Regions from separate parts of the Homo sapiens genome. Here regions 1, 2, 3, 4, 6 and 7 are each linked to region 5. Evidence: fine-mapped expression QTL. A gene starts in region 5. Each other region holds a variant in brackets. All regions are shown on one strand. Distances are between the middles of the regions. Region 1 has its middle 230 kb from the start of LINC01866. Region 2 overlaps LINC01866 (long intergenic non-protein coding RNA 1866). Region 3 holds the start of LOC105373449 (a long non-coding RNA gene). Region 4 overlaps VSNL1 (visinin like 1). Region 5 holds the start of GEN1 (GEN1 Holliday junction 5' flap endonuclease). Region 6 overlaps MSGN1 (mesogenin 1). Region 7 overlaps SMC6 (structural maintenance of chromosomes 6).

Region 1 (4,080 bases), 560 kb before region 5:
TCTGGAGTGAGAATATATGCAATTTATGAGGCAATGCAACAAAAATGGGCATTTACTGGGTTTCGTCTCAAGTTCTTTATCACTAGAAATCTAATAAGCTTGTTTAGCTCAAAAATTTAAACAAAGTGACATAAATCTTTAGGGGGCTCATATAAAAATATCTGGGCAGCCCAAAGTGTGTTATATAAAAGTATATTTAATATTCTAATTTTATACTTTGAACGAATGCCTAATTCTTTGTAGACAATCTATGGAAAATAAAGCTAAACATTTCTTGGGCTGTTGAAGTTTTACCATGCAAAGCTATCTTTTCCTCCAGTATGTCATCCATAAAACTGCCTGACTTCCCTTCACTGCTAAGTATAGGGCTGCTCAGTGGTGCTGTATTGCCCTGTCCCTCTTCCTCTTTCTGAGTTCTGCCCCTCATGGTCAGTACATTCTCTGTACTCTGATCAGTACCTGCGCTCAACAGATATGGGAAAAGGTCTTAATTCTTCTTTTGGTTAGGAAAGCCAATCCTTGTCAGGGTCCAAAATGAAAGTAAATCCCGACTTGGACAGCAACATGACAGTTACTAAGAATATGACTTCCCAGGGCATTATTGTTTGATCATGCACGTCTAAGATCATGTGGGCTACATATCAACCAAGCAGAAATGTCAGCACTTTCTAAAGAAGAGAAAGCTGAGCTTCAGGTAACTAGCTTTGGATGTTTCCTCCTCAGATGCTCATCTGAATCATCGGTATCCAAGGGCAGGGATTAGTAGCATTAGGATAGCCGTCAGCTTTTTCCAACTTTGTCCTGCTCAGCTGGTTTAGAGCAACCCAGACACTCTAAGATGGGAAGAAGGGAACCCACTTAGGTAGAAATATCTTTGTTCAATGACAGGGATTATTTGAGGAAGGGTAGGTAGGTAAAAGAGTTGAATTTGCTCTCATGTCCACATAGTTAAAATCCTCTGTGACCTATTTTCTCAGGTTTCAATAATCCCAAAATATGGGCATTAATCATGAAAGTCTGAACTTAGCTTTCATGTAAATTTTTGGTTGTGAACATTTTCTGTCAGTAAGAATTGTTTTATCTATTATGCACTGCCAATTATAAGAGATGAGTGTCAGTCATCATCACTATCTACCATGGATCCACTGACAGCCAAAGCTATCAGACCAGTCCTTGCCTGACCTGTTTGAGTTGATGAGAGTGGCTATGAATTGAAACCCCATTACAGGGTGGTCTAAGTGCACTTGTCTCTAGTTCTCTGTAACACCACATCTGGCTTATGAGCAAAGGAAGATACCAGGTTTGTTTCCCCAACTTTTATAAAAGTTATAAAATAATATGTATAATATTTTGATATAACATCAAGAGAATAAAATCTTCAAAACTATCAGTCCCTACTAATTGCATTTTCTATAATATCTGATCATTAATGCTTCATACTTAATATGTACTCAGCAAAGAATTGTTAAATAAATGAATGAATGGATTGCAACTATGTCAAGATGGGCATGAAAATGACCAAAAGCTATCAAAGATTTTGAAAAAAGGGATACAATTATTGTGGTACAGAAGTGGGGTTCTGAGTGCTTTCATTTCCTGATTAAAAATGTCTTTCATATCATACCAATAATGTTTCAATAATAACCACAACTTAAATTGACATTTAATTCAGTTCATCAAGGATTGTCCACTGAAAATGTGCCTAGCCCCATGGGACAAACAAGAACATCTAAGCCGTGGTCATTGTCCTTGAAAACTACATTGTGTCCTGGAAGATAGAGCATAAGCGTGAAATGGAGAAGCTTCACACAGGTCAGGGATTAGCAGAATGCTCAAATGAGCAATATATAGAAGCACTGGAAACAAAAAGCTCTAGCTCATGCTCCAGGAAAATCCACAGAGCCTTAAACATTCAAAAGTGAAGCATGCATTTTGCCTACTGCAGCAATTAGAAGCTGGAGCTGAAATCGATGCAGCAGCCACTAGAGCAATCTGCAGCTCTGTGGCTGCTGTTACTTACAGCCATTGATTTTCTCTGGCTTTGGTGTTTGG[T/C]TCACCTCACCCTTACCACCTCAGATCCACTGTGGCTCCAAGGTGTAAGGCACAGGGTCATTGCTTCCTTGAAAATTACCCAAGGCTCATTATTGGGCTCTGAACCTACAAAGGCCACAGAAAAGGAAAAATCACATAAAGGCTTTCTGACAACTGCCAACTATTGCTAAAACGCCACTGCTCTTCCTGGCATATAACTCAGTCTTTCTTAGAACAATCAAACTGATTCGTACTTCCAATTGTGAAATGTAAAACTCTCCACATTTAAGGTGGCCTCAAATGACCTTCTAGATTCATCTTTTAACACACTACCCTCTCTCCCAAAGCCCCTTCTCATAAATTCATTTATATCAGCCTACTTGACATTTTCTGAATATACTCTCAACTCATCAGCCCATCGAATCTGCTCAAGCCTTTCTTACTCCCTACACATCCTTTAAGACCCTGCGTAAGAGTCCCCACATTATCCATCCAAACTAATTCCCTTTTCTCCCCTCCCCAATCTATTGTACTTTCATTACAAAATATTAACTATAATCCTAGGTACATCTCACTTAATTGACTATTAATTTCCAGAAGGTCACTCACAGTTTATCCAACACAGTATCCTGTGTTATGTAGTGCACACCCAGACAGAAATAAGTCAAGCTAATGTAGCATTGTACAAAAAGATGTTTATCTGAGCACCAGAATTGTGGCACTAATAGGTGTGGTTCACAAGGTCAAGGTGTTTACTTATAACCATACCTGGAAGGAAGTCTTTAGCTAGATTTGGAGAAGATGATAAAAAGACTGATTGAGAGTAATAGAAGCTACATTCTGAAATGTATAGGAATGAGACCCATGAAGAGCGCGTTACATGATTACTGACAATGGACTATGAAGGATAAAAATGTGGTTCTGAACTCAATCTCTAATGCTTCATCAAGAGGAAAATTGGTCTGGATTGGGACATCTGCTTTCTTGTTTCAGAGTGCTTCTATTACTGAGCACATCAGTAATTCTTAGTTTTTGAATACCAACTCTGTGACTGGCTGGAGAAAGCTGCAGGGCTGCATATGATTCTCTAGATTGTGTCCCTCATATAGTATCAGAGGATTTTTGATAAAATCCAATTAACTGATACTGCCTGGTCTCTGCAGACCAGTGAGAAGTTAAAGGGATAGAGCACAACACCAAGAACACGGTTCCCTTTCTCAGAGCAGCAGTAGCAGAAGCAGCCAGCAAAGGCAGCCTCAGGGCAGCTGAAGGAGGAGGCTGAAGAAAGAGAAAAGGATTTCTGAGCATCTGAGATGTACCATGTAGAACTCTCAGAAATCACTGTAAAACACTCTAGGGAGCTTAAAGCTTGGCGAATTTATTTTACCTTGTGATATAATTTGTGTTGTACACATATTAAAAACAAAGCTCAGAGCAGGTAATCAAATTGCCAAATATAAGATGTGGTTCGGTTACTTTAATGGAACAAGCATTAAAAAAATACTTACTATGCGTCAGGCACCATACTTGATAAATCCTGGTGATTTTAGATCTGGAACCCAATAATTCTCTCACAAATCCAGGATTCCATAACCGTGTCAAGATGACTTTAAAATTCAAATAATGAAAGGCATTGAACTTGATCCCTGAGGTTCCTTTCCTCTCTGTATTAAAAGGATATAATGCACTTTTCCTTGGGCAAGGTTGAGCGGATGCTTGAGAGGAGACTAATGAGGTCTGGGAGCCGCTCCAGGTACTTGAAAAAAAACATGGAAGTTTTTTGGTCTAAGCAAGAAAGCATACTGACTGTATGCAGTCAAGTTCAGGTCAAAACTTTATTGAGCTTCTGATCTATTTTCACATTTTGCTAGGAATTCAGATGCAAAACAAGTAATGCCCCTCATGTTCAAGGGTATTTCCCTTTCAGTCAAATGGGGGGAGACACAAGCAATAATTCCAATATGACATGAAAATATTATGATAGTGTTAAGTACAGGATGCCTTCAGAGAGCAGAAAATTACCCAGAAAATCTGGATAATCAGGACATT
Region 2 (4,080 bases), 780 kb before region 5:
CTTGAAAAAAAAAAATACCAAGTTCACTAGGCTTTAAATTGTTAGTGCAAGTCTTAGTCATAAAAAGCTTCTAAAATCCTTATAAAATAATTAATAAAGTATAATTTAATTCTATACATTGCACAATTACCAAAATAAAAAACCCTTGGATTTATAGATTCATTACATTTTACAAATGAAACCTAGAAGTTCTGTGAAAAGACTGGGTTCCTGAGACTTTGAATGGGGTATCTAGAAAAACCTGAATGAAGCTGAGAATACTGAATCCCCACATCTTTTTTTTTTTTTTTTTTTTTTGAGATGGAGTCTCACCCTGTCACTCAGGCTGGAGTGCAATGGCATGATCTCAGCTCACTGCGACCTTCGCCTCCCGGGATCAAGCAATTCTCCTGCCTCAGCCTCCTGAATAGCTGGGATTACAGGTGTGCGCCACCAAGCCCAGGTAATTTTTTATATCTTTAGTAGAGACGGGGTTTCACCATGTTGGCCAGGCTGGCCTCAAACTCCTGACCTTGTGATCCGCCCAACCTCAGCCTCCACTTTGTAATCTCAAAATGCTGGGATTACAGGTGTGAGCCACCACGCCCTGCCAAATCCCCACATCTTTCTTAAGCTCTCTTACCAGCAGATGCAGCCCGTTCTTCCATAACAGAATAGACCAGTCTTCTCTTGCTTGTAATAAGGTCACCTAAGCCAATGGCTTTGTGAGGAGGGTTTTACTTTTCTCAAGATCTACACCCATCCCTCCTGACATCTAAAGGTTGAAATAGAGTCGGATCTCAGCATACTCAAGGGGGATAAGGCACAGAGGCTGGCATAGAAGAAGGCTCATACTCCTAAAGACATGCAAGATTTTTATATTTGTATTGGCAGAAAACTGAGTGATATACATGGGAATTCTAAGGATTTTAAACTAAGAGGAATATATCATTGAATTGGGTTGAATTTATTGACATCGGTGCATGAACCTGAGATTCTGGGTGTGATATGTTGGCTTGTGTGCTAATAATAATATGTAGTCTCCCAGGAGCCTTTAAAGGGACACATCCCTGCTGACACCTTGATTTTAACCCAGTGAGACCCATTTTGGATTTTTGTTTTCCAGAACTGTAAGAGAAATTTCTGTTGTTGTTAGCCACTATATTTGGATTAGTTTGTTAAAGTGGCAATAGGAGACCAGTACACTCTTTTAGCCTAGACAGCCTCTCTCCCTCTTCCTACAACACAACCAAACTCAAACTGAAGTCACCAGATCACCTGCCCTTAGAGCTTGGGCCATGCAACATCCTCCAGAATGGAGTTAGGCAGTTCTGCAAGGCTTAGCTGTGGAATGAAGTGAGACCGCCCCATCTCATTAGCACAGGAGAAACTGGAAACTAGAAAAAAAAGAAAAGAAAAAAAAAACTTTGGGAACACAGGAATACACTTTTAGATCTAGTTTTTTTTAACTGAAAAAAATTTTTTAGAATGTATAATATGTTTATATCATTCAAAAATTTCAAAAAACACAAAAGGGAAAACAGCTTTACCCTTATCCTCATCCATCTACTTTTCTCTCTTGGATCACCTACTATTATCAAAGGAACAGATAATACTTGGAGAGAGGAGCTTCATATATTGGGTCGTGGGAAGTCTCTCTGATAAGGTAGGATCTGAGCAGAGATGTGAATTAAGGGAGTGATGGTTGCATGCAGGCATCTGGGGGAAGAGTGCCACCTTTTGCAGAAGCATCATTTAGTGACCCATGAGAATGATAAAGTTAAAAACAACAAACCAAGAAAAAGTTATAATTTTCTAAGGAGTCAAAACATTGTATTGTGGAAGAAGTATATTCTCTTCATGCTCAGAAGATGAAGCATTACTCATGCAGATTACACTATGGTATACTGGAAGAAAAATAAAAATCCAAATGATTATTGTTTTTTAATGGTGAAGCATGTTTTAGGATAAAACCTTGCTGTAACACTGCTGAAGAGATTCTAAAGTGGGTTGAAACAGCCCACTGACCCTTGACCTCCCACAGATCAGAGCTCACTTCCCATACTGGCTGCAAGGTTAGAACAGATGAGAATTTGATGACATATGAATATACAGTGG[TAG/T]AGTTTGTAAGATGCAAGAAGGGATTCAACACTTAACTCTTTTGGCTACAACTGGATCACTGCTAAACTATTAATCCCATTAGTCACTGGATTAATTGTTTTACATTCTCTGAAGACTCTTACTTTAACTTACAGTAACAAACAAGCCCACCAATAAAAGTGAAAAGATCTGGGCACACTGGCTCACGCCTATAATCCCAGCACTTTAGGAGGCTGAAGCGGGAGTGTCACTTGAGGACAGGAGTTCAAGACCAGCCTGGCCAACACAGTGAAACCCAGTCTTTACGAAAAATACAAAAATTAGTAGGCTGTGGTGGCGGGCACCTGTAATACCGGCTACTCAGGAGGCTGAGGCAGGAGAATCGCTTGAATCTGGGAGGCAGAGGTTGCAGTGAGCAGAGATTGCGCCACTGCACTCCAGCCTGAGTAATGAAGCGAGGCTCTGTCTCAAAAACAAAGGAGAAGGAGAAGAAGAAGAAGAAAATTTTACTTAATTTCTATCCAAGGCCAGTATGTTTTCAGTCTAGTAAAGATGATAAATTTATATTGGAAAATAAGGTTGCTTCTACTCTGGTATGAAGGAGCCACCTCTAGTCCATTCCACTGTGTGGATTGATAAGCAGAGATGACCCAACTGGAAGACCAAAAGAATGAATTCCACAGTCATTTCTTTCTCACAGAGGACAGCTTTAGGTTCCCTCTGCAGAAGAGAAAGAAGGGGCCTTGGCCAACAGGTTGTTAAGAAATTTTAGCACCACAAGCAGACTCAGAATCAAAGGAAACATTCCAAGAGTTGAAAAAGACAATTCATTCAACTAAATAAATGGAATGGTTCCAAGACTGGAAAAATACCAGTGGTGCGGAAACAAAAGCTATAAATACTGCTCCTGGAAAGAGAACACTCAAGACTGTCATAGACATGGCAGGAAAAATGTTGAAAAACCAGAAAATTGGAGATGCTGCAGCTGCTTTGCAAGGGACAGTCTTGGCCACTGGAAATAGGGGAGGTGAGAGCAAGAGATAAGGGGAAAGGGTCAGGAGTTAGAGCCATAGGAGAGGAGAAATGTTTTCCTCTCACAACCGAGGCTGGCATCAGGAAAGGTGGTCCTACAGTTGTCATGACATCATGAGTTGGAACACAGAAATGACAAGGAACTTGCAATCCTTTCCTTCAATGCACAAAATGCCCAGGATAGTTGGCCCACCAGAAAAGTCTTTCTGGAATCTCAAGAGTCTGTATAGTAAACAACACTGGTGCAGTTTCCCTTTCCTGTTGAGAAAAAGCCTAAAAGTGGTTGGACATGGTGGCTCACACCTGTAATCTCAACACTTTGGGAGGCAGAGATGAGCAAATTGTTTAAGCCTAGGAGTTCAAGACTACCCTGGGCAACATAATGAAACCTTATTTCTATAAAAAATCAAAAAATAAGCCAGCCAGGTGTGGTGGTGCATGCCTGTAGTCCCAGCTACTCCGGAGTCTGAGAGGTAGGAAGATTGCTTGAGGCCAAGAGGTCAAGGCTGCAGTGAGCCATGATCATGGTACTGTACTCTAGCCTGGACAATAGAGCAAGACCCTGTCTCACAAAAAAAAAAAAAAAAAGCCTGAAAGCACAAAACTGTGGCCCCAGTTCTTTGTATGCTTCTACATGGAGAAGCTGGAGGCCCAGTAACATTGTACCATTCAAATATTACCCCTTGGCCAGGTGCAGTGGCTCACACTTGTAATCCTCGCACTTTGAGAGGCCGAGACAGGTGGATCACCTGAAGTCAACAATTCAAGACCAGCTTGGCCAACATGGTGAAACCTTGTCTCTATTAAAAATACAAAAATTAGCCAGGAATGGTGGTGGGCACCTATAATCCCAGCTACTCGGGAGGCTGAGGCAGGAGAACCACTTGAACCCAGGAGGTGGAGGTTGCAGTGAGCCGAGATCTCACCATTGCACTCCTGCCTGGGCAACATGAGCAAAAACTCCATCTC
Region 3 (4,080 bases), 44 kb after region 5:
TACCATTTGACCCAGCCATCCCATTACTGAGTATATACCCAAAGGATTATAAATCATGCTGCTATAAAGACACATGCACACGTATGTTTATTGTGGCACTATTCACAATAGCAAAGACTTGGAACCAACCCAAATGTCCATCAATGATAGACTGGATTAAGAAAATGTGGCACATGTACACCATGGAATACTATGCAGCCATTTAACAAAAAAAGGATGAGTTCATGTCCTTTGTAGGGACATGGATGAAGCTGGAAACCATCATTCTCAGCAAACTATCGCAAGGACAAAAAACCAAACACTGCATGTTCTCACTCATAGGTGGGAATTGAACAGTGAGAACACTTGGACACAGGAAGGGGAACATCACACACCGGGGCCTGTCGTGGGGTGGGGGAAAGGGGGAGGGATAGCATTAGGAGATATACCTAATGTAAATCATGAGTTAATGGGTGCAGCACACCAACATGGCACGTGTATACATATGTAACAAACCTGCACGTTGTGCACATGTACCCTAGAACTTAAAGTATAATAAAAAAAGAAATATAATGCCAACCATATATCTTTACTTTTCTGTTAGCCACACTTTAAAAAAAAAATAAACAGGTGAAATTAATTTCATACTATATTCGATTTAACACGATATTTCAAAATGTTATTTCAACATGTAATCAATACAAAAATCATGAGTGAGATATTTTATGTTTTTGTTTTGTTGTCTTTATTTCTTTTGAAATTTTTTTTCTTTTTATGTAGTTTTAAAATCTTTTTATGATATTTTACATTTTTTATTTCTACTAAGTTTTTGAGATCTAGTGTGTATTATACACTCGCATCACATCTCAGCCTTGAGACTTCATTTCACATGTTAAATCACCACACGTGGCCAGTGGATGCCATGTGGAAGAGCACAGTACTGGCTTTTGAGGTCATGTCTGTGACTTGGCTCTGGGTCCTCAGACTGAGCACAGTCCCTTCCAAAGAGTCTCCATTGGTGTTTTCGTTTGGCTAGCTATTTTAAAGCTCAGGATCTTAGGATATAAAAGTAGGGAAGAGATACATCAGTTTTAAGGAGGGTGAAGCTGTCTGGGCATGGTGGCTCATGCCTGTAATCCCAGCACTTTGGGAGGCTGAGGAGGATGGATCACCTGAGGTCAGGAGTTCGAGACCAGCCTGGCCAACATGGTGAAAGCCTGTCTCTATTAAAAATACAAAAATTAGCCGGGCGGTGGTGGCACATGCCTGTAGTCCCAACTACTCAGGAGGCTGAGACACAAGAACTGCTTGAACCTGGGAGACGGAGGTTGCAGTGAGCCGAGACCATGCCACTGCACTACAGCCTGGGTGATAGAGCGAGACTCTGTCTCAAAATAATAATAATAAAAAAATGGAGGGCAAAGCCATCCAGAGCAGGCTTCCTATGAGAGGAGTTGAGTGGGAAGATGTTCAGCACAGGACACTGCGGGGAGCAGAAAATGCCAATCAGGCCAAAGAGGCAGGTGCCTGCTACCTCCTTCATCCTGCATGGCAGGACTGGATGCTGTAGGCACAGGTAATGGTGGCTCTGAGCCACATGTTCTGCCTGCTTTATGCAGGTTGCCTTGAGCCACCTGGAGAATACTGGCTGCCAAAGGATTTGATTACGATGTAATGTGATCACTTAAATCTCTAAAAAACAGCTGCAGCCAGAATGTATTTTCAGCAAAGATGTCTTCTGAAAACAAGTTGTGCCATTTCACACTCTGGCCGAGGGTTCCCAGGAGAGTTCATTGATTAGCTTACCTCATCATTCAACCATAATTGGTTCAATTAGGAAAAAGGACGATCACTTTCGCCAACACAGAATTGCCTCCAAGA[T/C]AGTGCCCACAGATGTAAGTTTCTCTGAGGTAGCTTTTCGGGAAACAGACATCTCCTGAGAAAACCTGAGTTTCAGCCCTGTTTCCTAGATCCTCTGAGGTCAAATAATCAGCATACAGAGCTGCAAGGACTAGAGTTTGGAACCCCCCAAGCTGGTTGTCACCAGCAGTGTAATGCTTTCCACCTCAACACCTAAGGAGGACCAAACCCTGGGTTGGACCATATCCATTCCCAGATGAAGCCCCAGGATATGGTGGCAGGAGCCCAGCCTTTGCAGAGGAACACTCTGTTTCCCAAATGCCAGCCCACCAATTCATTTGAAACGTTCATTATGCTACAACTCTTAACTTGGTTTATGCATGGCATTGTAGCAACCAGTTAAGGCATTTGGACCACCAGCGTGTGACCTGCAGCAAGTTATCTTACCTCTTTAAGCCTCAGGTTCTTCCACTGTAAAACATGGGTAACGTCAGTCCCTACCTCCTCGTGCTGTCCATTAAGCTGTGAGATAAAGTACTAATCAAAATGCATGGAAAGTACTCCACGTAACTTCGTAACTATTTCATAACTATAAGTTCATATCATAAAACAGGATAATTTAAATCAGAAAAGTGAGTTTAAAAAAGTAGAGAAAGAAAGATTCTCAAGCAAGTGGGTGCTGAATACACACACATACAGAGCCAGTGCTGGGCAGCTGAGGGTGATCAGCAGAAGGGCAGGTCCTCCTTCCTGTCCCTGCTTCTAGTCTAATTGAGGGGACTTTCCCATAGGAGGAAATCCTGTGTTGGGCTGTGCAGCACCAACTCTAAGCACAACAGAGGCCATCAAGACCACGAAGTGGTGACTGCTGGGAGTCAGAGTAGATCAGAAAAAACAATTAGGATTTGGAAAGGCAGTAGGATGGCACCACTCACCCTAGGCAGAAAACATACACCAGCCGAGACACCACAATGGGATGAGCAGCCTGTCTTCCAAGGAGGTGGAGAAGGCAAAGTCCAGACTGGAGGAAAGGGAAAGGTGGAGAAGGACCAGGAAGCTTTAGTGACAAGATGAATAACAAACATATCAATGAGAAAACAGGCCAAGGAGTCATCAGCAGGCACAGTCCCTACAGCATGAGAACAAAATGCTAAGCTCCATGAGGTACGTATTGTAGGGAAGGGAGGAGAGGAGAAGGGAGGGGAGGGGAGTGAGGGCATTGTCTCTGATCCTTTCGTCTGTCCTTAGCACAGACACTGCTAGTGTTGCCCAGCTCTGCCAGGAATACGCTTCTGGAGAGCCTATCACAAATGCTCTCACAAATTATTGAAAGGGCCGTGTAGCCCCCCAAAAGTCTTCATTTTTGAGAATGCCCTGGAAAGGCGAGTTGAGACACTTACCTTCTCTCTGCTTGGCTTTCTTACTTGTACCCACCAAGCCTAGCCTTCCTATAAGAAATCATTAGATTTTATCTTTAGAACATTTTGAGCTATGAGAAGAAAGAACATCGTGTCCATACATACAGGCACAGTCATTATCACAGGATTCCGTTTTCTCTGTTCTGTTTGAATCCATCTCCTGGCAACAGCTGTCCAGCTCCCTAAAGCCAGCAGCAGCTGCAATAATGAGCCAACCATTTATCTGAGTGTGTGGATGACAGTCACAGCTCCACGTGCAGCTGTTCTTTAAAGTCCACTGTCTTGTCCCTCCCTCGGGTCTAGACAACAAAGACAGCCATTCATTAAACTCCTCTGTTTCGAGTTTTAGGGAACCCCCTATGCCTTTTACCAGTGGTACGGTCTTTTAATGCTGCCACTTGCTGGTAGTTTTACCATAAGCAAGCACAAAAAACCTCCCTCTTTGAACTTTGGTTTTCTGAACTCTCCAGAGATAACAACCATTACCCACCTCATGAGACTGTTGTGATGCTCCAAAGATGTAATCGATATGATAATCTTTTACAAACTATATGACAGCATTCTTGTACTATTAATTATTAAGGTCCTTGTTTCTATGTTTAAAGTGAAAAAATTGCTAGAAAATATAGGACACTACAGTAAGCTTCTGTGGGCATCCAGATAATTGGTCACTGAGAACTGGAGGAGGCAGAGTGTTTCTGGAGAAAACAGTTGGCCCTGGCTTAGCGGGAGTGGTAGAATCTGAGAGGTCAAGGGAGAGGAAGGGACAGTTGAGTGAGGGACACAAGCCAGGCAAAGGCCAAGAAAAGAAAATGTGGTATAT
Region 4 (4,080 bases), 120 kb before region 5:
CTTGGATTTCGGGCTTTCAACTGTCTTTGCCTTGTCTTCTAGTAATTAAGTATGTACCTTGGAGGTAGGGTTTCACCATGGACCCACCTCATCTGCCTAGGCATTTGGCTGCCTCCTGCCACTGTCACTGGAATTTTAGCCCAGAGTGCCCTCTTGAGTCATTCCCTCAGGCTCAATGCCCTTACTCCAAAGCTGCAGGGCTTGCAGCTCTGTGAGAAAGGGAGGTGGCAGTTCACACTGCAGAAGCCTCATCAGTTGAGAGACATAAATAAGCAAGTGGATGTTCCTTGTTCTTGAATAGGAAGACTCAGTGCTGCAAAGATGCCAGCTCTCCCTAATGAATGTAGCAGCTCAAAGCTATCTCAATCAAAATCTCATCACAGTTTGCTTTGTTTCATTGTTTTGCCACTTGATCTAATTATTTTAAAGTTCCTCTGGAAGAGTATATTTTCAATAATAAAAGAAGAAGAGAGAAGATGATAACTTCCACATATTAAAATATTTTATAAGCTTGCAATAATTAAGATACTATGCCGTTAACAGAGGAATAAATTGACAACCAAATAAAGAAATAATAACTAGTTCAAACATATCAAACATACACCCGCATATATGGGGCAAAACGGCATTTTATTTTTTTTTAATTTATTTTTTTCAAGACAGAGCCTTGCTCTGTTGCCCAGGCTGGAGTGCAGTGGCACGATCTTGGCTCACTGCAACCTCCGCCTCCTGGGTTCAAGCAATTCTCCTGCCTCAGCCTCCTGAGTAGCTGGGATTATAGGCACACAACACCACGCCTGGCTAATTTTTGTATTCTTAGTAGAAACGGAGTTTCACCATGTTGGCCAGGCTGATCTCGAACTCTTGACCTCGTGATCTGCCCGACTTGGCCTCCCAAAGTGCTGGGATTACAGGCGTGAGCCACTGTGCGCAGCCCAAAATGGCATTTTAAATCAGAAAGGAAAAAATGGACTTTTCATTAAATCTTATAACAATTGTCTAGCCATTATATTCACAAATTAAATGTGAATATTCAAAGGTAAATGAGAGAGAGAGGAAAGTATTAGAAGAAAACATAGGGAAATATTCTGAATCTCGGTGTGGGGATGGACTTTCAAAATGACACCAAAACCAAACACCATTTAGGAAAATTCTGATGCCTTGATCATATAAAAATCTAAACTTTTGCACAGGAAAAAAAAAGCAACTTGTATATGATTTTTCCAAAGGATATAAAAAAGATAGTGAACCTCACTAGAAATCAGAGAAATGCAAAAATGGTTGGATAATATTGTATCATTGTTCTGGTATCAGAGGCAATGTAAAGGGTGCATCACACATTAGCACTCTGGTTAACTATTGGATGGTGGTTTGACAATATGGGTCACAAGTAAGATTTGTGTATTCCTTCACCCATAGTCCATGTTTAGGAGATAACCAGATCAATTTTATAAATAAAACACTTTAAGGTATTAATAACAGTGAAGACGTTTTAAACCATTGTCAGAGTCTCTAGATTTGATTAAATAAATTATAGAACATTCATATAATGGAATATTAATCAGCCACTAAAAAGGGGGTCATATATTTAAAGCCAGTGACCTAAAAGGTTTTCATGACGTAGCACCAAATGAATAAATCTAGAGTTATAAATATACATGCGTGTATGTGTAAACATGAAGAATGCAGAACCATACACAGGTACATACTTAATGACTAGAATGAAGGTAAGGTTTGTTGTTGTTGTTGTTGTTGTTTTCCGAGATGTAGTCTCGCTCTGTCACTGAGGCTGGAGTGCAGTGGCATGATCTCAGCTCTCTACAGCCTCCGCCTCCCGGGTTCAAGTAATTCTCCTTCCTCAGCCTCCC[A/G]CGTAGCTGGGACTACAGGCCCATGCCACCATGCCTGGCTAATTTTTGTATTTTTAGTAGAGACGGTTTTTCACCATGTTGGCCAGGCTGGTCTCGAACTCCTCACCTTAACTGTTCCACCCACAGGGATTACAGGCGTGAGCCACCACACCTGGCCAGGTAAGGTTTTTTGTATGATTCACTGCTGTATCCCCAGTGTGAGAAACTTTGTCAGTGTTCAATAAATACACATTGAATCAATGAACTCCTAGAACAATGGTCATTGTTTTTTTTTGTTTTTGTTTTTGATTTTGTTTGTTTGTTTGCTTTGAGATGGAGTCTTGCTGTCGCCCAGGCTGGAGTGCAGTGGCGCAATCTCAGCTCAGTGCAACCTCTGCCTCCCGGGTTCAAGTGATTCTCCTGACTCAGCCTCCCAAGTAGCTGGGATTACAGGCATGCATCACCACACCCAGCTAATTTTTGTATTTTTAGTAGAGATGGAGTTTCACCATGTTGGTTAGGCTGGTTTCGAACTTCTGACCTCGTGATCTGCCCACCTTGGCCTCCAAAAGTGCTGGGATTACAGGCATGAGCCACTGTGCCTGGCCAAACAATGATCACTCTTAATAATAACTCTGAGTGGTAGGTTTTCGGCTAATTATTCCTTTATTTGTGTTTTAAATTTTTTCTTCGTAAATGTGTACTATCTATAGAGTAAGAAAAAAGCATTGCTATTTTCATTAAAGTGCCTTAAAAAATAGACACAGCATATTTCCTTCAGTTATACATTGAATAAATCACCCTTTGGAGAAGAACTATGAAATGCAGAAATAAGCATTAAAAATACTTCTTGGATGATTTGGTATTAAAAGTAAGAAAAGCACCGGGTGCAGTGACTCATGCCTATAATTCTAGCCCTTTGGGAAGCCAAGGCAGGCAGATCACTTGAAGCTGGGAGTTCAAGACCACTCTGACCAATATGGTGAAACCCTGTTTCTTAGTCTGTTCTCATGATGTTAATAAAGACATACCTGAGGCTGGGTAATTTACAAATGAAAGAGGTTTAATTGACTCACAGTGCCACATGGCTAAGGAGGTCTCACAATCGTGGCTGAAGGCGAATGAGGAGCAAAGTCATGTCTTACATGGCATCAGGTGAGAGAGCTTGTACAGGGGAACTCCCCTTTATAAAACCATCAGATCTCGTGAGGCTTATTCACTATCATGAGAACAGTGTGGGAATGACCCTCCCACTGGGTCCCTCCCAGGACACATAGGAATTATGGGAGCTACAATTCAAGATGAGATCTGGGTGGAGACACAGCCAAACCATATCACCCCATCTTTACTAAAAATACAAAAAAAAAAAAAAAAAAAAAAAAGCTGGGCATGGTGGTGAGTGCCTGTAATCCTAGCTACTCTGGAGGCTGAGGCACAAGAATTGCTTGAACCTGAGAGGCAGAGGTTGCAGGGAGCCGAGATTACACCACTGCACTCCAGCCTGGGTGACAGAGTGAGACTCTGTCTCAGAAAGAAAAAAAAAAAATTAAAAGTAAGAGCCGAATGTGATGGATCTAGCAGAGGCCACCTTCACCTATCGAGTTAGTCAGGAAATACTTATTGAATATCCATTGTGTTCCAGGCACTAAGAATACAGACATGAGTCAGGAGTGACCCTTCCCTGGAGGATGTCAGAGCAGAGTTGGGGGCAGGCATAAAACAGCTCGTGACAAGACAAGGCCCAAGTGACCCTGTGCATCGATACAGGGTATTGTCATTGCTCAGAGGGGAAGCCCTTAACTCAGCTTAGGCAGGGGAGAGAGTTGGAATATGGGGTGGAAAGGAAAGAGCAGGCTGAGAAGACAAGGGGCTCAGAGAAGTGCCCCTTGAGCTGAGTGATAAAGGACTAACAGGAGCTAGCAAGAAGTGAAGGGGCAAGAGAAAAGCATGGGCAAAGCATGCAAAAGCACTCTGGAAAGATTTCCCATGGATCGGCACCAGCTTGGAGTGTCTGAGGAGGTGAGGGTGGTGGAGAAATGAAGCTGGAGAGGTTTGCAGGACCCAAGTCGAAAAGGGCCTTGTGGGACTGGACTAAGCAGAGTGGCTTTCATCCTGGAGTGTGGGGGAGAAGGTGGAGGAGGGCATCAAAGAGCGTGCAGTAGAGAGGTTAAGGCCTAGACTTGCAGATGCGCTCACTCATTGTAACAGCAGTGTGCAGGCGAGAATCAGGGCT
Region 5 (4,080 bases):
TTTCAGTCCCTTGATTGAGTCCACGGATACAGAGGATGCACTGATAACTGTATTATTTCTTCCAACTTGCATAAGAAGAACTGAAACTTAAAGAGGTGGTACCAACCTGCTCAGAGTCACACAATTCTGGCTTTTTGTGATATAAATACACGCTTTTAGGCAATATACTAGTGGCCTCCAAACGTTTTGTACTTGCACCCATTAAGCAAAAGAAATTTGAAATACATGTTCCAACATAAAATTAATACCCTATGTTTCACGTAGAAATCAAATGAAATAAATCTAAATAGAAGTTCTAATATGTTCCCTCTCTACCCACACACCCATGGAACAAACTGCATGCCACTGTATATACTATTGTACATGTTAAAAGATCACACTGCAACCATATAAAAGTCAGGAGATTTGGGTTTTTCTTTTTTCCTTTGAATATATATTACTGAGAAGTTTGCCTTTAAAACACTGGCTTTTAATCTACTACTCGTGACATATGCAGAGTAATAAGCGCTCACAAAACTTCTGTCTTGAGGGCTCAAACACCAAATGATTGCTCTAAGAATTTTCACAGTATTACCTCAAACCCTATTGGTTCTACAACCTTTCTCTACCCTAGAGTCCTGTTTTCCGCAATTCCCAATTGGGATTCTTCTCCGGTTCATTTCTGTAAGAAATGAGGGCAGAGAAATGCCATCAGTAAACCTTTGAACACATGTTAATTTTTCTAGGTAATACAATTTGCATTTTCGTAAAACTGGGCTTTAATGACAAATCCGATTTCAGTGATCTTTGCATACACCCTTTAAACACACCAGTTGCCGCCTGCGAGATATCATCAGACTCATGCTAAGAGCCACTCCCTACCCCAGCTTTCCCCAGACCTCTCCCCGCTTTACAGTTATTCGCCACAGCCCGGGAGAGTCTGGGGACGGCCGCCTGGGAGGGGACGGCCGCCTGGGAGGGGACGGCCCGGAGCAGACGCCAGGTTTCCCGCGGCTCAGGAGACCGGTGCCGCCTCGGAGAGCGCGCGAAGGTGCCGCCGGCCGCCCGACCCGCCCGAGGAACGGACATCTCCCGCCCGGGCCCGCAAGGACGACCATGAACACCGCCGCAGCTCAGCTGACCCTGCCTCTCCCGGGTGGCTGGGGGTCGCCAGCCAAGGGGGCAGCGGGCGGAGGATGAACCCCGGAGCAAGGGAAAGCGACAGCGCGCGCCTTCACCCTACCGCCAACAAGTCGAAGTCTCCCAAAGGAACCTGATCGGCGGGGCTGCCGTGGTACGACCGGCCGCTAAGGCCACCCTGCGGGCGTCTCGACCTCGGCTGACCGCCGCTGGCCCCCTGGGAACCGCGTGCCGGCCGCAGGAGAAGGTAGATTCCCGGGAGCCCCGGCGCCCACCGCGGTACTAACCGCGCCTGCGCCCCGCCCTCCCTCCCTTCGGGCTCCGCCCGCGCCTGCGCAGTTGCGGGGTTTCGCGCCGCCGGAGTCTGAGAGGCCGGAAGTGCCCCTTAGCGGGTGGGGGAAGCTGGTAGGCACGGGCGGCTCCGCAGTGACCGGACTCGGGGGAGGTGAGTGATTTGCCTAAGTAAAAGGGAAAGATAATTGAGCGCCCCCGGCAGCTGGTCTACGCATGCGTCCGCTAGGCCGGCTGGGAGCCGGCAAGGGAAAGCCGAGCGGGCCCCATTGGGGGAAAGGGGTCAGTCACTTCCCGGAAGAGGCGGGGCCGCGCGGGCCCGGCGCTGGATTCGAAACGCTTCCTGGTGCTCCTGGGCCTGGCGGTTGAGCCCGGGGAGCTAGTCTTTGCTTGGGTAAAGAAAGAGGACTTTCCTTTTTTTTTTTCCTTTTGAGAAAATTCAGAAATTTGGAGGCACAGTAGTTAGGATTCAGGCCAAACTGGTAAATGACGAAGGGGCTTCTTCCAGAGCCAAGGAGGAAGGGTTGTCCGGGTAAGTCCCGCGGGACGTGGAGAGACGGCGCCGCCCGGGTCCTCCCACTGATTCCTTTGACCATCTGGCTTACGGACGAGCTCTTTGTTCGCTGCTCCTCCGAAAACGCCTTCAATGACTCCCTTTGAATAAAGTAGGAAGTCCGAACCGAGCCGCCAGGCCGCGACTTGGCCCCTGTTTTCCACTCGCGAGGGCCCTGCGTCACCCCGCCTCGGGAAAGCTGCGCGTTCTCCGGCCGCTTGCGCTTGGCCGAAGCTGCTGGGTCCCGCTGTGCTTCCCCCGGGCATGCGATGGGGATAATTCCCACGCCTCGCTCAAAGCCATCCCGGGAGAGCCCTCCCTGGTCCCCATAGGCACAGTTGGGTGTTCCCTTTTCCGTGTTAACCTTGTATTTCGGATATAGTTCTGTTATAGTAATTACTTTAAGGTATTGTAGTTATTTACAATCAGTCTTTCCCCCACGGTAACCTAGAGTGTAAACCCCCTAAATAAACGTCAGAAGTAATGAAGTCTTAACTTCCTTGGCTTAGGTTTCAGCGCCCTTCTCAACCCCACACTCCCGCTTCAGTCTTTACACAACCCTTCCCATGAATATGCTGACCTAACAAGTAACCTACTTTTCATACTCCAAAATCTTCTCTTCTGTGTGGGGAAAATAATGCATTGACTGCCACCTCACTCCACCTCCAAATAAATTGATGTTGAAATTCTGGCCTCCGGTAATGGAATTCTTTACATCAAAGTCACTTTTTATTTCTAAAAGTAATCACATATATATTATATTCCTACTGTGGCCCTTGCCATGGATCAACGAAAAATATGACATAGTCAAAATAGACCAAAACATCTGGCCTTGTTGTAACCAATGGGAAACACGGTTGGGAGGTCCCTACTTACATGTCACTTGCTTCAGGAACCGTTCCTTGATTCCTAAGTGGGGGACCTTTTTTCCTAAATACAACTATAGCTTGCTTTCTTACCTCTTAAGCCCTTTTTATCTGCAGTCTCACTTACCCTACTAAGGTCTTTAAATGCAGGGCTTGATCTTCCATTATTGTATCTCCAGCACCTATAAAGCTTTCCTGTTAAATAGTAGACATTTAATAAGTATTTATTGATAAACGTGAAGTATGCCTCAACGTTTAGGCTAAATTCATATGAAAATAAAATTGAAAAAATAATTTTAAAGAACAGCATTAGTTACTGAGATTATGTGGTAAATCCCTTAAAATATAATCTTGCATTGAAATAGTTTTCACCATTTACCAGTCTTTATATGAATATATACTCATCTAAATGGAAATTGGGAAATTTAAGCATTTTCTGCTTTTCCGAAGTAAATTTTCTAATGTTTTTCTTAAAGCTGAACTAAATTGCAAAACTTGCTTTAATAAAGTGTGTATTTTTGCATCAGTTAAGCCCCTGACCTCTTTATGTTCTTTAAATTTGATTCATTAGTGAAATTAACAAGGTTCTGTGTTTTTCTCACCTCATTCAGTTTTATAATTAACCAATAAAAGCTTATTAGCTTTTAAGGAAGTTTTAGGAACTTAAATTGATTTATGGGCACCATATGGTTACATCAAAGGACTTGTTTTTGTTTTAACTGGAAGTGGATTCTTAAGTCCTTTAAGATGGAAATTTATGTTCTTTCTATTATACCAAGCAATACTTTCTGAAATAGAGTGATTTTTTTTTATTCCATGCTACCAGTTGGTCATGCAATTCAAATATTAAATACTAGATTACAGATATTAGAATCTTGTAATGCATCTGGTTTAATACCTGTCATTTTGTAGAACGGTTAAATGTCTTCCCAAGGTCATACACCTAATCAGTGGTATATTCAAAACCCAAATCCTAGGCTTCCTATCTGAAGTCCATTGCTTATGAAGTGGTTTGCTATGTGTTCTGACTTTGTTGATTCAAATAAGTAAGCTAAATCAATTTAAGCCATTAATAGGTTTATAAAGTTATTTGCTATGTGTTGTTCTTACATCATTGATTCATGTAAGTAGACTTGTGTGACAGCTAATTCTTAAAAAATTATGAAGATGTTAGACTTCTTTTGATATATATATGTTGATTGTATGAACAGATTGACATCAATATACTTATTCATTATAAAAGATTTGAGT
Region 6 (4,080 bases), 65 kb after region 5:
TCATCCTTTGCAAACAGACAGATTATTTTGCCCTTCTCTGTCTGTTCAAGGTATTTTAAAGGGTCAGTGATTTTAAATGCATTTTTTTCAATAATGTAAAAGTGTTAATCTCTTGCCATTTTGGCGTTGAGACCTTTTCTTCTGTTGCTAACAAAACCTGTATTTTGTATAGGATCCAGTGTGATATCTGGATTCTTATTTAGAAAGATTTGTGCCAAGTAAAGGGCTTTAGTGCTCCTGTTTTCATTTCGTGTGTATATGTGTGTGTGTTTGTGTTTGACTGAAATCATGCTGTTGCAGGGACCAAAATCACTTAAATGCGGAAGGCACTGGTGTCATGATAAATGGAAAGTCACAGGCAGACAGGCTAAGTTAAGACAGTGAAGATTCCAAAAGCCAGAGCCTCCTCTTCACAGGCAAACAGCTTGTGTGACAGGGAAGGAGGGTACGGGGAGGAGGAGGAGGAGACAGCACCTCAGGGTGGACCTGAAGCAAGGCTGGGTGGGCAGGGTCTCCCTGTCCTTTGTTCTGGGCCTGGTATGAACAGGACCTTATTTAGTCCTTTCACTTACCCGTTTGTCAAATAAAAAGACAGTCTCAGAAAAAAAAAAAAAAAAAAGTGATTCGAATCCCATAAAGAATAACTAAAAGGGTCAGTGTTAGAACTGAACAATCTCTGACCCCTCCAAAGGCATTTACTTCTTCATCTTCCCCTCCTATCCATCTGCCTCCCCCCAACTCCAGATCCCCCACATGCACCCATCACACACACACCCACTCTTCATGGTGCCTTGTCTTAGGGTGGGTATCTGTAGCACCCACAGTTTAGCTCATTTGAATGGCACAGGACATTGAAAAGGGGGCTTTGAATTAAGGAGGTTCTGAAAACTAGTGAGATTTTTTAAGGCTGAATTTTTCTCCCTATGGTTATTAACCATTAGTATTTGTTGTACATGTCTCCTATCATCTTTTTTCTATTGGTGATTTTGTTTTCTTTTTAGTGACATAAATTACAAAAGCAGTAGATGTGTTCTCTACTTCTCCATTTTTTTTTTGCTGATACAAACATATACAAATATATATAACTTGTCCATTTTTTTTGCTGATACAAACGTATACAAATAAATGTAAGCATACATAAATGTTAAAGAAAAAAACCTGAAAATTCCTTTTTTAACTTAACAATATACAGTACAAGTTCTTCCAAGTTAGCACAAATAAATCTGTGGTGTAAATACCATTATTACCTTCATTTTATAGATGGGGAAACAGATGCATGACTTGCTGAGTCACACATGCAAAAAGTATAACAGAAAACAGAGGTTCTAGCAAGGTTCCATAGAACAGATTCTGCAAAATTTCTTAAGCGAGTCACCTTTTCAATGATTTTTAAGTTATTTTCAGGTTTTTTATGACAAAAATGCTATAACAAAGGTTATAGACAACTAGCTTTATCTACTGATGTGTTCATTAGCTTGAAAAATTCCCAGAAATGGGATTATTGGATCAGAGTATGCACATTTTAAATTTTAATAAATAATGTTATGTCACTTCTATAAAAGTTTGTAGTTATGTATACTCCTCCTAGTATTATGTGACAGAACCAGTTGCCCCACATTTTCATTGGATACTATCAATTTTATGAATTTTTAATGGATAAAAATTGTTCATTGTTGTGTTAATTTTAACTTCCCTGTCTGTCATTTGAGGTGGAGCGTCTTTATTTTATGTGACCATTGTTCATTTTGGTTCCTCTTCTAAAACTTGCTAGTTTATAAATTTGCCATTTTTCTATTGCTTTATCTTCTTGTTAATTTGAGAGAGTTCTTTGTATATTATGTACTGGAATATTTCCTTCCAATCTTTTTATATTGTATTCTTTTTTCTTTTTTATTGATGCATAATATTTATTCATATTTATAGGGTACATTTGATATTTTGTTACATGCATAGAATGTGTAATGGTGTAATGATCTAGTCAGGGTATTTAGGTATTCATCACCTTGAATATTTATCATTTCAGGACTATTTCAAGTCCTTGCTTCTAGCTATTTTGAAATATACAATTCATTGTTGTTAATTATAGTCACGCTACTCTGCTATCTAACACTAGAATTTATTTATCTATCTAACTCTATGCTTATATCCATTAACCAACCTCTCTTTA[T/A]CCCCTACCCACCCCTCCCGCCACCCACACTCCCTTCCCAGCCTCTGTTTCCTATCATTCTACTCTCTTTTTCCTTTCTTTTTTTCACTCTGTTGCCCAGGCTGAAGTGCAGTGGTGCGATGATAGCTCACTGCAGCCTCAAATTCCTGGGCTTAAGCGATCCTCTTGCCTCAGCCTCCTGAGTAGCTGGAACTATAGGTATGTGCCCCCATGCCTGGCTGATTTTTGTATTTTTTGTAGAGCATGTTGCCCAGGCTATCATTCTACTCTCTACCTCCATAAGATCAAGTTTTTTTAGCTCTCACATATGAGTGAGAACGTGCAATATTTATCCTTCTGTGCCTGGCTTATTTTACTTAACATATTGACCTCCAGCATATTTGTTTTGATGATGTCTTTTTTTCTTTTTTTCTGAGACGGAGTTTCACTCTTGGTGCCCAGTCTGGAGTGCAATGGCGTGATCTTGGCTCACTGCAACCTCCGCTTCCCAGGTTCAAGCAATTCTTCTGCCTCAGCCTCCCAAGTAGCTGGGATTACAGGGATGTGCCATCACGCCCAACTAATTTTGTATTTTTAGTAGAGATGGTTTCATCCTGTTGGTCAGGCTGGTCTCCAACTCCTGACCTCAGGCGATCTGCCCACCTTGGCTTCCCAAAGTGCTGGGATTACAGGCGTGAGCCACTGCGCCCGGTGATGATGTCTTATGATCTTGATTATGGCATCATTTTTTTTGAAGCTTTTCATTTTTATATGATCAAATTTGGTTTTTGTTTCATGGCTTATGTGTTTTTCTCCCTTGCTTAATTTTCCCCAGTTCCAAGGTTGTCCAAGTGTTCTCTTGATGTTTTGTAAATACTCTTACAGTTTTATTATTTATTTATGGGTCTTCAAAATACCTTTAATTCATTTTTGTCTATAGTGTGTGGAAGGAATCTAATTTTATTTCTGTGTAGCTTGTCATCAAGGATTGGTGGGTGGTGGTGAGGCACAGTTGCTAAGATGTCATTCTATGTATATAAACTTTCATCAGCTTCTCATATATTTGGTGTTTTAGAGAAAAAGCTAGAAAACATTGAACAATATGAAGACTTTCTCCAAGGAACTTTATCACATACATGTACAGGTGTTCATGTGAGAGCGTATGTGTGTGCACATATATACGTATTTGTTCACCTATGTATGTGTTCATGCATGTGTATGTGTGGGTTGTGTTTTTTGTGTTGGAGAAGGAGGAGGGTATTGGGGTAAGGGAGAACCAGCTGTTCTAAAAATCAACTTTCGGTTCAAATGCTATTTTCCTCACCGTTTTTAAATGAGTGGGACTCAAATGCTCTTGGCTTTGATTTTTCAAGCTCAAGTATTAACAATGGTTTATAAATAGCTTGGGCAATTTTGGTTGTCCTGGGCACCAAATACTGTGAATGAATTAGGAGGTATTTCCTGTCCTCAGTTTCAAAATATCCCTTAATGTCACAGACTCACCTATTAGCTGGGTATGCCCTCAGGACTTCTAAGGGACCCACTAGAGGGTAGGTGTCTGCAAAACCAGGAGAAGATGGCAGCTTCCTGGGAGGGGTCCTGTGGCCCAGAGCCTTGTCTCACCCACACCCCCTTCCTAGCCTCTGTTATCTATCATTCTACTCTCTTTTCCCACTGAGTCCTTCCCAGATTGCCAGGCTGCAACCACAACTGCTGTACACGATAGGCAGCTGTATATGAGTGTTTGACTCCTGCCAGTCCCCAGTGGAGTCGCCTCCCTTATCGGGAGGATAGCTGGAATAGGTCCCTCAATCCTCCAGGGAGTGTTTCAAAGCATCTGGCCTGGGCAAAGCTCAAGATTAGGAATAAGTTATTTCTGGTGCTTGGACAGGGAAAGGGTTGCAGAACCACAGTTCACATATGCCTACTCTGGT
Region 7 (4,000 bases), 63 kb before region 5:
GACGTGGAGAACCGTCAACATTGGAACTGGACTACAGGTATCAATGTTAAGTTTCCTGTACTTTATAACAGTATTGTGGTTATGTAAGATAATACTCTTATTCTTAGGGAATATATTGAAGTACTAAGAGGTAAAGGGTCATGATTTATGAAACCTACTTTTGAATGGTACAGAAAAAAAAGTAAAGTAATGTGAGTGTATGTATATGTGTGCATGTATACATGCTAAATATATATGGCCTTTCAATAATGTTTGAAGTTTTATGATTTTTGATAGAGCTGTCCCTCAGTATCTGCAAAGGAACTAGATCCAGGGCCCCCTGGGCAGATACCAAAATCCATGAATCCCTTTTATAAATGTCATAGTATTTGCATATAACCTATATACATCTTCCTGTATACTTTAAATCATCTCTAGAGATTACTTATAATACCTAAGACAATGTAAATGCTATGTAAATAGTTGTTACACTGTATTCTGTATTTTTTAAAAAATTTGTATTAGTTTTTACTATTGTGTTCTTTTTTTGTTGTTTTTGAGTTTTTTCCCCCAGTCTTTTCAATCTGTGGTTGGTTGAACCTGTGGATATGGAATCAGTGGATACAGAGAGCCAGCTGTATTTACAATAATGGATGCATGTCTATGGCAATTGGATCTAGGCAATTTCTCTATTCAATACATTATTAATTCCAAATGGGAAAATCCACTAGGATTAAAATTTCGTTTGAGCTCCAGTTGCTTCTTAAATCATTACTGCAATTATTTTACTTTATAACTAATAGAGAAATGTAATATGTGAGTGACTAGCAGACCATGGAATTAAAATTGATTTTGCACAGAAAAATAAATAGCTTTTGCTCAGGTTACTAAATTCACTGAATAAATTAACAATGAAAATCAGAAAGAACATCATAAAGCCACAATAACTAAAACAGTATGGTTTTTAAACAACTGCCTGTGGCCAGGTGTGGTGGCTCATGCCTGTAATCCCAGCACTTTGGGAGGCTGAGGCAGGTGATCACTTGAGGTGAGGAGTTCGAGACCTGCCTGGTCAACATGGCGAAACTCCAGCTCTACTAAAAGTACAAAAAATTAGCTGCACGTGGTGGTGCACGCCTGTAATCCCAGCTACTCAGGAGACTGAGGCAGGATAATTGCTTGAACCCAGGAGGCAGAGGTTGCAGTGAGCCAAGATTGCACCACTGCACTCCAGCCTGCAGAGGAAGACTCCATTTCAAAAAATCAAACAAACAAAAAAACCAAAAAAACAAAAAAAAACTCCCTGTGAATATATTATCACAAAATTAATTTAATTTTTAAAATCTGCATAATGTACCGAATAGACAAAAAAGTACATGAAAAGGTCATAGAAAAATAAATATAAATAAATGAAAAGATGTTCAACTTCACTCAATGTAAGAGAAACGTACATTAAAATTACGGTTAATTCTTTTTCTTGGGAAATCTATCAGAAAAAAGAATCTAAGAAGGCCACACGCTGTTTAGGCTGTAGGAAAACAGGCACTCTAACACATCGCTAATGGGAATGCAAAATTGGTACAATCCCTATAAAGGGAAATCTGACCATATGGAGTTTATACTACTAAAAAAAAAACGCTGAGTACATATAAAATAATGCGCATTCACTTATTGTGTTCCACCATTTGCAACAACAAAAGATTAGATTAAAACGCAGCTATCCATGAAAAGGAGATTATTAAATACAGTGAAATTATAAAAGACAATGAGGAAATATCTATGTACCAACATAAGAAGATCTTCAAGATATATCACTAAACCAAAACAGCAACTATTCACAATAGCCAAGATATGTAATCAACCCACATGTCCATTAATGAATGAAGAGAGAAAAATGTGTATACACACACACACACACACACACACACACCAGAATACTATTCAGCTACAAAAAAGCTATAAAAAAGCTGAATAGTATTCTGGTGTGTGTGTGTGTGTGTGTCTCTGTGTGTGTGTGTCTGTGTGTGTGTGTGTGTATACACATTTTTCTTTCTTCATTCATTAATGGACATGTGGGTTGATTACATATCTTGGCTATTGTGAATAGTTGCCGTTTTGAACCAACGACAAAAAACACATGACTCTCAATAGACGCAGAAAAGGCCTTTGACAAAATTCAACAACATTTCATGCTAAAAACTCTCAATAAATTAGGTATTGATGGGACGTATCTCAAAATAATAAGAGCTATCTATGACAAACCCACAGCCAATATCATACTGAATGGGCAAAAACTGGAAGCATTCCCTTTGAAAACTGGCACAAGACAGGGATGCCCTCTCTCACCACTCCTATTCCACATAGTGTTGGAAGTTCTGGCCAGGGCAATCAGGCAGGAGAAGGAAATAAAGGGTATTCAATTAGGAAAAGAGGAAGTCAAATTGTCCGTTTGCAGATGACATGATTGT[A/G]TATCTAGAAAACCCCATCCTCTCAGCCCAAAATCTCCTTAAGCTGATAGGCAACTTCAGCAAAGTCTCAGGATACAAAATCAATATGCAAAAATCACAAGCATTCTTATACACCAGTAACAGAGAGACAAATCATGAGTGAACTCCCATTCACAATTGCTTCAAAGAGAATAAAATACCTAGGAATCCAACTTACAAGGGACGTGAAGGACCTCTTCAAGGAGAACCACAAACCACTGCTCAATGAAATAAAAGAGGATACAAACAAATAGAAGAACATTCCATGCTCATGGGTAGGAAGAATCAATATCGTGAAAATGGCCACACTGCCCAAGGTAATTTATAGATTCACTGCCATCCCCATCAAGCTACCAATGACTTTCTTCACAGAATTGGAAAAAGCTACTTTAAAGTTCATATGGAACCAAAAAAGAGCCCGCGTTGCCAAGTCAATCCTAAGCCAAAAGAACAAAGCTGGAGGCATCATGCTACCTGACTTCAAACTATACTACAAGGCTACAGTAACCAAAACAGCATGGTACTGGTACCAAAACAGAGATATAGACCAATGGAACAGAATAGAGCCCTCAGAAATAATGCCGCATATCTACAACTATCTGATTTTTGACAAACCTCACGAAAACAAGAAATGGGCGAAGGATTCCCTATTTAATAAATGGTGCTGGGAAAACTGGCTAGCCATATGTAGAAAGCTGAAACTGGATCCCTTCCTTATACCTTACACAAAAATTAATTCAAGATGGATTAAAGACTTACATGTTAGACCTAAAACCATAAAAACCCTAGAGGAAACCCTAGGCAAACCATTCAGGACATAGGCATGGGCAAGGACTTCATGTCTAAAACACCAAAAGCAATGGCAACAAAAGCCAAAATTCACAAATGGGATCTAATTAAACTAAAGAGCTTCTGCACAGCAAAAGAAACTACCATCAGAGTGAACAGGCAACCTACAGAATGGGAGAACGTTTTTGCAATCTACTCATCTGACAAAGGGCTAATATCCAGAATCTACAATGAACTCAAACAAATTTACAAGAAAAAAACAAACAACCCCATCAACAAGTGGGCGAAGGATATGAACAGACACTTCTCAAAAGAAGACATTTATGCAGCCAAAAGACGCATGAAAAAATGCTCATCATCACTGGCCATCAGAGAAATGCAAATCAAAACCACAATGAGACACCATCTCACACCAGTTAGAATGGCGATCATTAACAAGTCAGGAAACATCAGGTGCTGGAGAGGATGTAGAGAAATAGGAACACTTTTACACTGTTGATGGGGACTGTAAACTAGTTCAACCACTGTGGAAGTCAGTGTGGCGATTGCTAAGGGATCTAGAAATACCATTTGACCCAGCCATCCCATTACTGGGTGTATACTCAAAGGATTATAAAACATGCTGCTATAAAGACACATGCACATGTATGTTTATTGCGGCACTATTCACAATAGCAAAGACCTGGAACCAACCCAAATGTCCATCAATGATAGACTGGAAAATGTGGCACACATACACCATGGAA

What was found. PIP is the estimated chance that this variant, and not a neighbour inherited with it, causes the effect.
Region 1: its variant is fine-mapped to the expression of GEN1 in whole blood (INTERVAL, PIP above 0.99).
Region 2: its variant is fine-mapped to the expression of GEN1 in ovary (GTEx, PIP 0.96).
Region 3: its variant is fine-mapped to the expression of GEN1 in lung (GTEx, PIP 0.96).
Region 4: its variant is fine-mapped to the expression of GEN1 in lung (TOPMed, PIP above 0.99). The same link has a PIP of 0.9 or more in whole blood.
Region 6: its variant is fine-mapped to the expression of GEN1 in whole blood (TOPMed, PIP 0.95).
Region 7: its variant is fine-mapped to the expression of GEN1 in monocytes after Pam3CSK4 (Quach 2016, PIP 0.95).

The regions. Positions count from the first base shown.
Region 1 is chr2:17,196,180-17,200,259 of GRCh38, forward strand. No RefSeq gene overlaps it. Among named protein-coding and RNA genes, the nearest start is that of LINC01866, 230 kb to the left of the region's middle. The variant T/C (reference allele first, on the strand shown) is at 2,053.
Region 2 is chr2:16,975,524-16,979,603 of GRCh38, forward strand. It overlaps LINC01866 (long intergenic non-protein coding RNA 1866), which reads left to right. Exons shown (of 5, transcript XR_001739184.2): 5 at 1-252. Among named protein-coding and RNA genes, the nearest start is that of LINC01866, 11 kb to the left of the region's middle. The variant TAG/T (reference allele first, on the strand shown) is at 2,098.
Region 3 is chr2:17,796,865-17,800,944 of GRCh38, forward strand. It overlaps LOC105373449 (a long non-coding RNA gene), which reads right to left and starts at 3,450. Exons shown (of 4, transcript XR_939762.3): 1 at 3,240-3,450; 2 at 2,775-2,896; 3 at 2,287-2,361. The variant T/C (reference allele first, on the strand shown) is at 1,861.
Region 4 is chr2:17,630,144-17,634,223 of GRCh38, forward strand. All of the region lies in intron 2 of VSNL1 (visinin like 1), which reads left to right. The region is part of intron 1 of LOC124908054 (a long non-coding RNA gene); the gene reads right to left. Among named protein-coding and RNA genes, the nearest start is that of VSNL1, 91 kb to the left of the region's middle. The variant A/G (reference allele first, on the strand shown) is at 1,869.
Region 5 is chr2:17,752,404-17,756,483 of GRCh38, forward strand. It overlaps GEN1 (GEN1 Holliday junction 5' flap endonuclease), which reads left to right and starts at 1,735. Exons shown (of 14, transcript NM_001130009.3): 1 at 1,735-1,942. It overlaps SMC6 (structural maintenance of chromosomes 6), which reads right to left and starts at 1,407. Exons shown (of 28, transcript NM_001142286.2): 1 at 1,223-1,407; 2 at 575-661. RefSeq lists silencers at 883-1,242, 1,383-1,522.
Region 6 is chr2:17,817,343-17,821,422 of GRCh38, forward strand. It overlaps MSGN1 (mesogenin 1), which reads left to right. Exons shown (of 1, transcript NM_001105569.3): 1 at 1-456. Among named protein-coding and RNA genes, the nearest start is that of MSGN1, 2.9 kb to the left of the region's middle. The variant T/A (reference allele first, on the strand shown) is at 2,168.
Region 7 is chr2:17,689,353-17,693,352 of GRCh38, forward strand. The region is part of intron 23 of SMC6 (structural maintenance of chromosomes 6); the gene reads right to left. Among named protein-coding and RNA genes, the nearest start is that of SMC6, 62 kb to the right of the region's middle. The variant A/G (reference allele first, on the strand shown) is at 2,448.